Regions from separate parts of the Homo sapiens genome. Here region 2 is linked to region 1. The links come from fine-mapping of genetic effects on gene expression. A gene starts in region 1. The other region holds a variant in brackets. All regions are shown on one strand. Distances are from middle to middle.

The links. PIP is the estimated chance that this variant, and not a neighbour inherited with it, causes the effect. A credible set is the group of variants that fine-mapping cannot tell apart.
Region 2: its variant is the best candidate, but not a certain one, in a credible set for the expression of TM6SF1 in monocytes (Quach 2016, PIP 0.84).

What each region holds. Positions count from the first base shown.
Region 1 is chr15:83,104,962-83,109,347 of GRCh38, forward strand. It overlaps TM6SF1 (transmembrane 6 superfamily member 1), which reads left to right and starts at 2,684. Exons shown (of 10, transcript NM_023003.5): 1 at 2,684-2,811. The coding sequence starts at 2,720. RefSeq lists silencers at 2,312-2,591, 2,622-2,741.
Region 2 is chr15:83,084,084-83,088,469 of GRCh38, forward strand. No RefSeq gene overlaps it. Among named protein-coding and RNA genes, the nearest start is that of MIR4515, 19 kb to the left of the region's middle. The variant T/TG (reference allele first, on the strand shown) is at 2,230.

The DNA.
Region 1 (4,386 bases):
CAGATTTCTAAATTGGAAGCTACTTGAGCCTGTGTCTAGGTTGAGCGGAAGGATCCAGGGCAGCCAGAGGGGTTCACTTATCCCAAAAGCCAGGGAAGGTTCCTGCGAAAAACTCTTCCCAACTACAAGCATTCTGACCACTCATATTTTCAGCATTAAGAGAGAAACTGGCCGGGCGCGGTGGCTCACGCCTGTAATCCCAGCACTTTGGGAGGCCGAGGCGGGCGGATCACGAGGTCAGGAGATCGAGACCATCCCGGCTAAAACGGTGAAACCCCGTCTCTACTAAAAATACAAAAAATTAGCCGGGCGTAGTGGCGGGCGCCTGTAGTCCCAGCTACTTGGGAGGCTGAGGCAGGAGAATGGCGTGAACCCGGGAGGCGGAGCTTGCAGTGAGCCGAGATCCCGCCACTGCACTCCAGCCTGGGTGACAGAGCGAGACTCCATCTCAAAAAAAAAAAAAAAAAAAAAAAAAAAAAAAAAAAAAAAAGAGAAACTGTTGTCAACAAAAAAATCATGTAATTCCCAATATGTATATCACAATACCTTGAAACTTTGCCATGTCACTTGGGTCCCTTGTGGGCTCTGAGGGAGCAGCTCTGAGACTGATGCAACAAGGTTGGGTGTTGATGGAAGGGATGGGCTGGCTTGGGAGCCTGGCTGGGAGCTCAGAGGTATAGGAGGAAGTGTCTCTTGTCAGGGAGGAAGTAGGAGTTTAAGGAGAGTGGTGAAGGTTAGGGGTGGAAGAGGGTGATGTGCAGGTGACAGGTGAGGACACCTCTTGGAGAAACTTTGGATATGTCACAGTGTGGGCCAAGGCTTAAACGTTATGCACTCAGAGCTGGAGAAGCCTTCAAGAAGAACTAGGATGAAGGATTAGGAGAACTGGCATTTGAAAAGTGGAGTGGCCCTGGAGCAGGCCATACCTCCTCGTAGCTCATTTTCCTCATGTCTAAAATGAGCCAAATGGTCTTTTAGAGGCTAGGTGCGGTGGCTCACACCTGTAATCCCAGCACTTTGGGAGGCCGAGGAGGGAGGATCACTTGAGCCCAGGAGTTTGAGACCAGCTTGGGCAACATAGTGAGACCCTGCCTCTACAAAGAAGTGGTGCGAGACTGTAGTCCCAGGAGCTAAGGAGGCTAAGCTGGGAGGATGGCTTGGCGTGGGAAAGTGGGGACTGCAGTGAGCCCTCATCTCTCCACTGCCTCTAGCCTGGTTTGCAGAGTGAGACCCTGTCTTAAAAAAATAAAAATAAAAATAGGCTGGGCGCGGTGGCTCACGCCTGTAATCCCAGCACTTTGGGAGGCCGAGGCGGGCGGATCACGAGGTCAGGAGATCAAGACCACGGTGAAACCCCGTCTCTACTAAAAATACAAAAAATTAGCCCGGCGCGGTGGCGGGCACCTGTAGTCCCAGCTACTCTGGAGGCTGAGGCAGAATGGCGTGAACCCCGGGAGGTGGAGCTTGCAGTGAGCCAAGATTGCACCACTGCACTCCAGCCTGGGTGACAGAGCGAGACTCTGTCTCAAAAAAAAAAAAAAATAAAAATAATAAATAAATAAATAAATAAATAAATAAAATAAACCCCTCAAATGGCAACAGCAAAAACACATAAATGGTCTCTTAAATTCCCTGGAAGTTGTAAAGACAGTAAGTACATGCCGGTACCTCCCTCAGTTGCTTGAGCTGTTCTCCTGGAACTCACTGCCCTTCAGATAGCCACAACACTTGACACACAATATTTTCCATACCCGTAGGCATCTATCATTCAGAGGAAGAGGCTTATCTTCCAGTCTTTGTACCCTGCAGGGCCCAATGCAGGCTGGCTGGTGGGCACCTGGCCTCCAGGAATGCTTCCTGGAATAGCAATGAATGGCGCTCTAGTCTCTTAGAGTCTCAGCATTTATGTCCATTTCAATTAAAGAAAAAAAAAAAAAAAGAATCGCAGGAGGTGGTGTAGTGAGCAGCACAGGATAACGCGCTTCGTAGGTATGAACTCAGTTAACCCCACAGTCACACTATGAAGTGTGTTATCCCCATTTCCCAGATAAGGGAAAAGACAGAGAGGTTAAGTAATTTGACCAAAGTCAACAGCTGGTGACTGGAGAGCCAGGTTTAAAAACCGGATGCCGGCTCCGTGCAGCAGCCCGCCGATGGCTACTGGAGCGGAGAGGTTCCGAGGTTTCAGGGGCATTTTGTCCTTTCCCACTTCTGGGCCGTGGGCTCCCCCATAGACGATCCCGCGGGCCCTTCCTCCTCTGACACCCTCGGATCTGGTTCCACCTTTCCCGGACCGCAGCTCAGCCCCGCGCCTCTCCAGCTCTTCGATGACCGGTTCCCGGCCGTGCCCCGGGCCCTCCCTCGGAGCGCGCGCCGCCAGGGGCACCTGTCCCTGCGCGGGGGTGTCGCCGCCCCTCGGCGCCGCCGGGCGCTTGCCGCTGAGCCGTGGCGCCCCTGGCAGGAGCACTGCAAGGACGCCTCCCGGGACTGCACCGCGGCCCTGCGCACTTGGGGCGACGGGGCCAGGCGCGGGGGACGGCTGCGGGCTGGGAGGGCGCGCGGAGGAGACACCGCTGAGGGGACGCCGCTGAGGGCGCCACGCGGGGGGCGCGGCTGAGGCGCCTCGAAGGGCAAGCGCCAAGGGGGCGCGGGCGCCGCCGGAAGCTGGGGCGGGGCGCCCAGCGGGATGCGGTGAAGGGCGAGCGGCGCGGCGGCTGCGATGAGTGCCTCTGCGGCCACCGGGGTCTTCGTGCTGTCCCTCTCGGCCATCCCGGTCACCTATGTCTTCAACCACCTGGCGGCCCAGCATGAGTGAGTGAGCCGGCGCGGCGGGGGTCGCGCCGAGGGGCGGCGGGAGTTGGCTCGCCGCGACGGGAGCCTCGCAACTTTTCCGAGGGGGCTGGGACCGTCCGCCGCGGGACAGAGGTTCGTGGCCGCAGGGGCTCCCCGCGCCTGGCCAGACTAGGGGGGCGCCCCAGGGGTCGCACGGGCCGGGTCTTGGAGCCGGGCCCTGAGGTGCCCAGGCTGGCGCATTTCGGGATGTTGGTGCCAGCACCGCGCCAGGTGCCCGGGGTCACAGGCGTCAATACGGCCATGCCCCTGCCCTGGAGGGGCCCAGGGGCCGGTGGGGAGCGGAACAAACACGGACACTACGAACCTGGCCGTGTCAGCTCGTTTGTGCCTTGTTCTTTTTGCATCTCACGGGAACGTTTCCATGTATGGACTTTCGCATACTTATCATTTCTTATTAATTTTAGAAACTGTTGTGAATGACTAGCAGAAATAGCCCGGAACCAACAGGCAGAGACGTGGGTTCTAGGCCTGGCTTTGGCACTGACGGTGTCTGGCCTGACGGTGTTTGGCACTGACGGTGTGGTCTGGCCTCGGTTTTCCGGTCAAGTGGACTTTGTGTGCGTCCTATTGTAAGGTTCCACCGAGACCTCTTTGTGAAGGGGCGTTGTGAATGGAGAAGTGCTTCCCAGTGCCTGCGCTGGGGTAGGATGGGGACAGGCAGCAGAGGCAGAACACTTCAATGTGAAGGAAATGGGTGGGGCTGATGGAGGGGGACAGGGCTTGGGTTCGAAGCCCTGCCTCCCACTCCACTGCAGGGATCACGGACTAACCTGCAGCCGGCAGCTGAAGGCCTGAGGGTCGCCGGGTGTTGGGACAGGCGCCAGCCTCTGTTCCTGCTGATGTTGGTTGCTGTCTGGAGGGAGGAGGAAGTAACCTGCTATGTCTCTCAGCTGTTGGTGCTAAGGAAATTGCATCAGTCTGTAGGCTGCAAACCCCCTTCAGCTGGTCAGGCCGTGGAGTGTCTGTACATAGGGTGGTAACTTCCTCCTCTCCAGCTGCCTGGCCGCCTGATACAGGCAGCACCCACACTGAGTGCTCACCAGGCACCAGCAGTGTCTACCCTTGGTCTGGCCCAGTCTCTGGAGGCATCCCCTGGAGGCAGCTGCTCTGGGCCACCGAATATTACATGCCTGTCAATATAGTGCATGGGGGACCCTGTGCTCCAAAAAATGGCATTACGGGTAGTTCAGTGAAGATATACTGAGTGCCTACTGTGTGTTTGGCACTGTTCCAAGTGTTGGTGACATAGCTATGAACAAGCCAGAAGAGGCTGTGGAGGCAGGTAATGAGATAGACATCAACAAACATTAATACATCGATAGTGACATGCTATGAAGATAATAAAATAGGGTGACTGGGGAGGGGGCTGGTGGCCAGGGAAGGCTTCTAGGAGGAGGTAACACTTGAGCTATGGGAAGATCTGGGAATGGAGCCTGTCGGGCAGGAAAATGGAGCAGTGCAGGGGAAGGAATTGGATGGGCGTAGTAGGTATTTTGGAAGGTGAACAGATGGGGCTTACTGAAGAGGGTTGCA
Region 2 (4,386 bases), 21 kb before region 1:
ATTCCCTCCTGCACACATCCACATGGGCTTATTTTCAATGTCAGTGTCTAGGCATTTTAATTACCAGGCATTGTTCTAGGTCCTGGGTTTCTGAGTCTTTTGACACAACGGCAGTGGTCTTTGAGCACTTCCTTGATTTGTAGTATGCCAAGAGGTATATCTCCTCCCCCAGACCTGGAATCAGCCCTTTCTCCCAGGACCATTTGTTCCCTTCAGTGGGAAATATATCTAGAAACCAGAATGTGGCCCCAGGGGAGCTCATTTCTTCTGTGCTCATGATTTTTTTCTAGGACTTCTCAATGGATAAGAGCTGAGATGGTGAATATTAGGGGAGGAGATATAGTAGGAGATGAAGAAAAAACTACTTTCTCTAGGTCATTTTTCTATTTTCAATAGAAAAAATTTTCTATTATCAATCATTTAGTGTATATATATATATTTTTTGAGACAGAGTCTCTCTCTGTTGCTCATGCTGGAGTGCAGTGGCATGATCTCGGCTCACTGTAACCTCCACCTCCTGGGTTCAAGCAATTCTCCTGCCTCAGCCTCCCGAGTAGCTGGGTCTACAGGCGTGCACCACCATGCCCAATTGATTTTTGTATTTTTAGTAGAGACGAGGTTTCACCATGTTGGCCAGGATGGTCTCTATCTCTTGACCTTATGATCCGCCCGCCTTGGCCTCCCAAAGTTCTGGGATTATAGGTATGAGCCACCACGCCCAGCCTAGTTTATATTTTTGATTTTAATAACTAATACATCTGTTAAAATACCTTTATAGTTACTATAGATGTATAATACATCTGTTAAAATACCTTTATAGTTGCTACAGATGTATAGTACATCTGTTAAAATACCTTAAGAGTTGCTACTGAACGCATCGTGGCATTGCCAGTCTGGGTGAGGTAGGTTGCTGCCATACCTTCCCATGAGTTACAACCTGGGTGCCCGTGCCTAACTCTGATCTTCTGGTTCCTGTGCCAAGGTTCCCACCAGAGATGGAGGGTGACAGTGGTTGCTGGGCAGGAGTTGGGGAGACGGGCCAAGTGAGGCCCAAGGCACCAGGGGGTAGGAAGCAAGTGGCTTGGGTTGGTCCCTGGGAAGTGGGGAGGCAGCAGGAGGTGGGACCCTCCATGAGCCAGGGTGCAAGCTCCAGTGCATGCCCTGTTGTTTCATCAGACTTCACTTACAACACACAGATTCAAAGATCAAATTACTAAGGGCCAGGCACAGTGGCCCACACCTGTAATCCTGCACTTTGGGAGGCCAAGGTGGGCGGATCACTTGAGGTCAGAAGTTCGAGACCAGCCTGGCCAATGTGGGGAAACCCCGTTTCTACTAAAAATACTAAAATTAGCCAGGTGTGGTGGCACACACCTGTAGCCCCAGCTACTTGGGAGACTGAGGCAGGAGAATCACTTGAACCTGGGAGGCAGAGGTTGCAGTGAGCCAAGATCACACCATTGCACTCCAGCCTGGTGACAGAGCGAGACTCCGTCTCAAAAAAAAAGAAGATAAAATGAGTAAGAATTTTTCAAGATGGCAACTGCAAAGCACTAAACCTCAAATAGGGGGCTCTCCAGAGCACAGGGCCCTGTGAGACTGCACCTGTCCTATGTCCATGAAGCAGTCCCTGTCTATACAGTACGTGGTAGAAGTTTTTAGAATATGGTCTGGGGTCCTGAGGATCATGGAGACCCTTCAAGTGATTTGTGAGATCAAAAGCATTTTCATAAAAATACTAAGACATTTTTGCCTTTTTTACTCTCATTGTCTCAGGAGCGTGCAGTGGGGTTTTCCAAAGGCTACTTGACTTGCGATACTGAAACAGATGGAATGCAGAAGCAGAGAATCCTGCTGTCTCCTATTAAGCCAGACATTGAAGAGTTTGTTTTTTTGTGTGTTTTTTGTTTTCATTTTTTTTGTTTGTTTTTTGAGACGGAGTCTCACTCTGTTGCCCAGGCTGGAGTACAGTGGTGCAATCTCAGCTCACTGTAACCTCTGCCTCCCAGGTTCAAGCAATTCTCCTGCCTCAGCTTCCTGAGTAGCTGGGATTATAGGCGCATGCCACCACACCCAGCTAATTTTTGTATTTTCAGTAGAGACGGGGTTTCACCATGTTGGCCAGACTGGTCTCGAACTCCTGACTTTAGGTAATCTGCTCGCCTTGGGCTCCCAAAGTGTTGGGATTACAAGCGTGAGCCACTGCACCCAGCCTTTTTGTAGGGCTTT[T/TG]TTGTGTGTGTGTGTGTGTGTGTATTCTTTGTGGTTTTCTATATATAGGATCATGTCATCTGTTAATAAAGATAATTTTACTTCCTCCCTTCCAATTTGGATGCTTTTTTTTTTTTCTTTTTCTTGGCTAATTGCTCCATCTAGGAGTTCTAGTACAGTGTTGAATAGCAGTGGTGAAAACAGGCATCCTTGTCTTATCCCTGATCTTAAGAGAAAAGTTGGCCGGGCACAGTGGCTCATGCCTGTAATCCCAGCACTTTGGGAGGCCGAGATAGGTGGATCACCTGAGGTTGGGAGTTCGACACTAGCTTGACCAACATGTAGAAACCCCCGTCTGTACTAAAAATACAAAATTAGCCAGGTGTTGTGGCACATGCCTGTAATACCAGCTACTTGGGAGGCTGAGGCAGGAGAATCACTTGAACCCAGGAGACAGAGGTTGCGATGAGCCGAGATCGCGCCATTGCACTCTATCCTAGGCAACAAGAATGAAACTCCACCTGAAAAAAAAAAAAGAGGAAAATTTTGCTTTTTACCATTGAGTATGATGTTAGCTGTGTTTTTCATCAGGTTGAGGATAGTCTCCTTCTATTCCTAGTTTGCTGAATGTTTTATCAAGAAAGCCTCAATAATTTTTAAGAACGTGGAGTGTCCGTGAGACCCGTTTGAGAACTGCAGATCTAGAGTATTAGTTAAGAGCAAGGGCTGTAAAGTTAGTCTACCTGGTTTTGAACTGCAGCTGGGCCACTTATTTGCTATAAGACCTTGGCCAATTTACTTAACCTTTCTGTGCCCTAGTTTCCTTACTTGGAAAATAGGAATGACGATAATAGTAACATGATCTACCTCAGAGGGTTAAATTAAAATGAGATGAATACATATTAGAACGGTGCCCAATGTAGGATAAGTGCTCAACAAATGTTAGCAAGTATTCAAAGAACCAAACCAATTTCAATACTGGCTGACAATTTCTGTATTACTCTTTTCCTAAAGTCTACCCTACAAGGATTTAATAATTTGACTTCACTTTTGATTAACACAAGATGCCTCATTTTTCAAATTTACATTTCTGTAATTGTTATTGTTTACATTTTTGTCATAGTTGTTTTTCTTCTTAATCCATTTTAACTGTCCAATTGTGCTTTTATTATTAGCTGTCTTACCCACTGCTTTGATACAGTCAAATATAAGATAAATAACTAAATTTAGGCCAGTTTATACCACATTATCAAGGCTGTTGTTGTGTCAATAAAAATAATAATAGGGCTCCAAGGACTGAAATTATCTGTCCCACATGTTCTGAATCTTTTAAATAATCTATGAAGACTAGGCACAGTTGCTGTGATTCTACTGCAGTGATATAAATATGACCTTCCACGAAAAAGCATGTCATGGCCAGAAGTAAAATTCAAAGCAGCAGGTTGGGTTTCAGAGTCTACGATGCTAGAATATGCTGCCTCTCTGGTTACAGGGAAATAAATATAGACCAGACTGATTATGTGAACACATTTTATTTAACTTTGCCCATCTTTACTCATTTCCCAGCCAACAGAAACTAAATCAACCCAGCTATAAGTAGGTCTGCTTATCTCTTTCCTTCCAGCCTCAGAAATTTCCCTTCTTTTCAAGGCTAAATTTTCCATCTTTGCTGTTGAGTTTATTCCCTTGCTGTCTTGCTAAATTACCTGTCCATTTTTTTTTCTTTTTTTTTTTTGAGACGGAGTTTTGCTTTTGTTGGCCAGACTGCAGTGCAGTGTTGCGATCTTGGCTCACCACAACCTCCATCTCCCGAGTTCAAGCAATTCTCCTGCCTCAGCCTCCTAGGTAGCTGCAATTACAGGCATGCGCCACCATGCCCGGCTAATTTTGTATTTTTAGTAGAGATGGGGTTTCTCCACGTTGGCCAGGTTGGTCTCGAACTCCTGACCTCAGGTGATCCACCCGCCTCAGCCTCCCAGAGTGATGGGATTACAGGCGTGAACCACCGTGCCTGGCCTGTCCATTTCCTTTCTGGTGACTTTGATGTCTCCATTTCCACTGGTTCCTTTCCTTGATATCCACAAATACATAACTAATTTCCCTAACAGAAAAACATCTCCTCAAAGCCTCTGCTTCAGCTTCTGAGTGTCTTCCTTTCTTCTTCCTTCCTATCAAAGT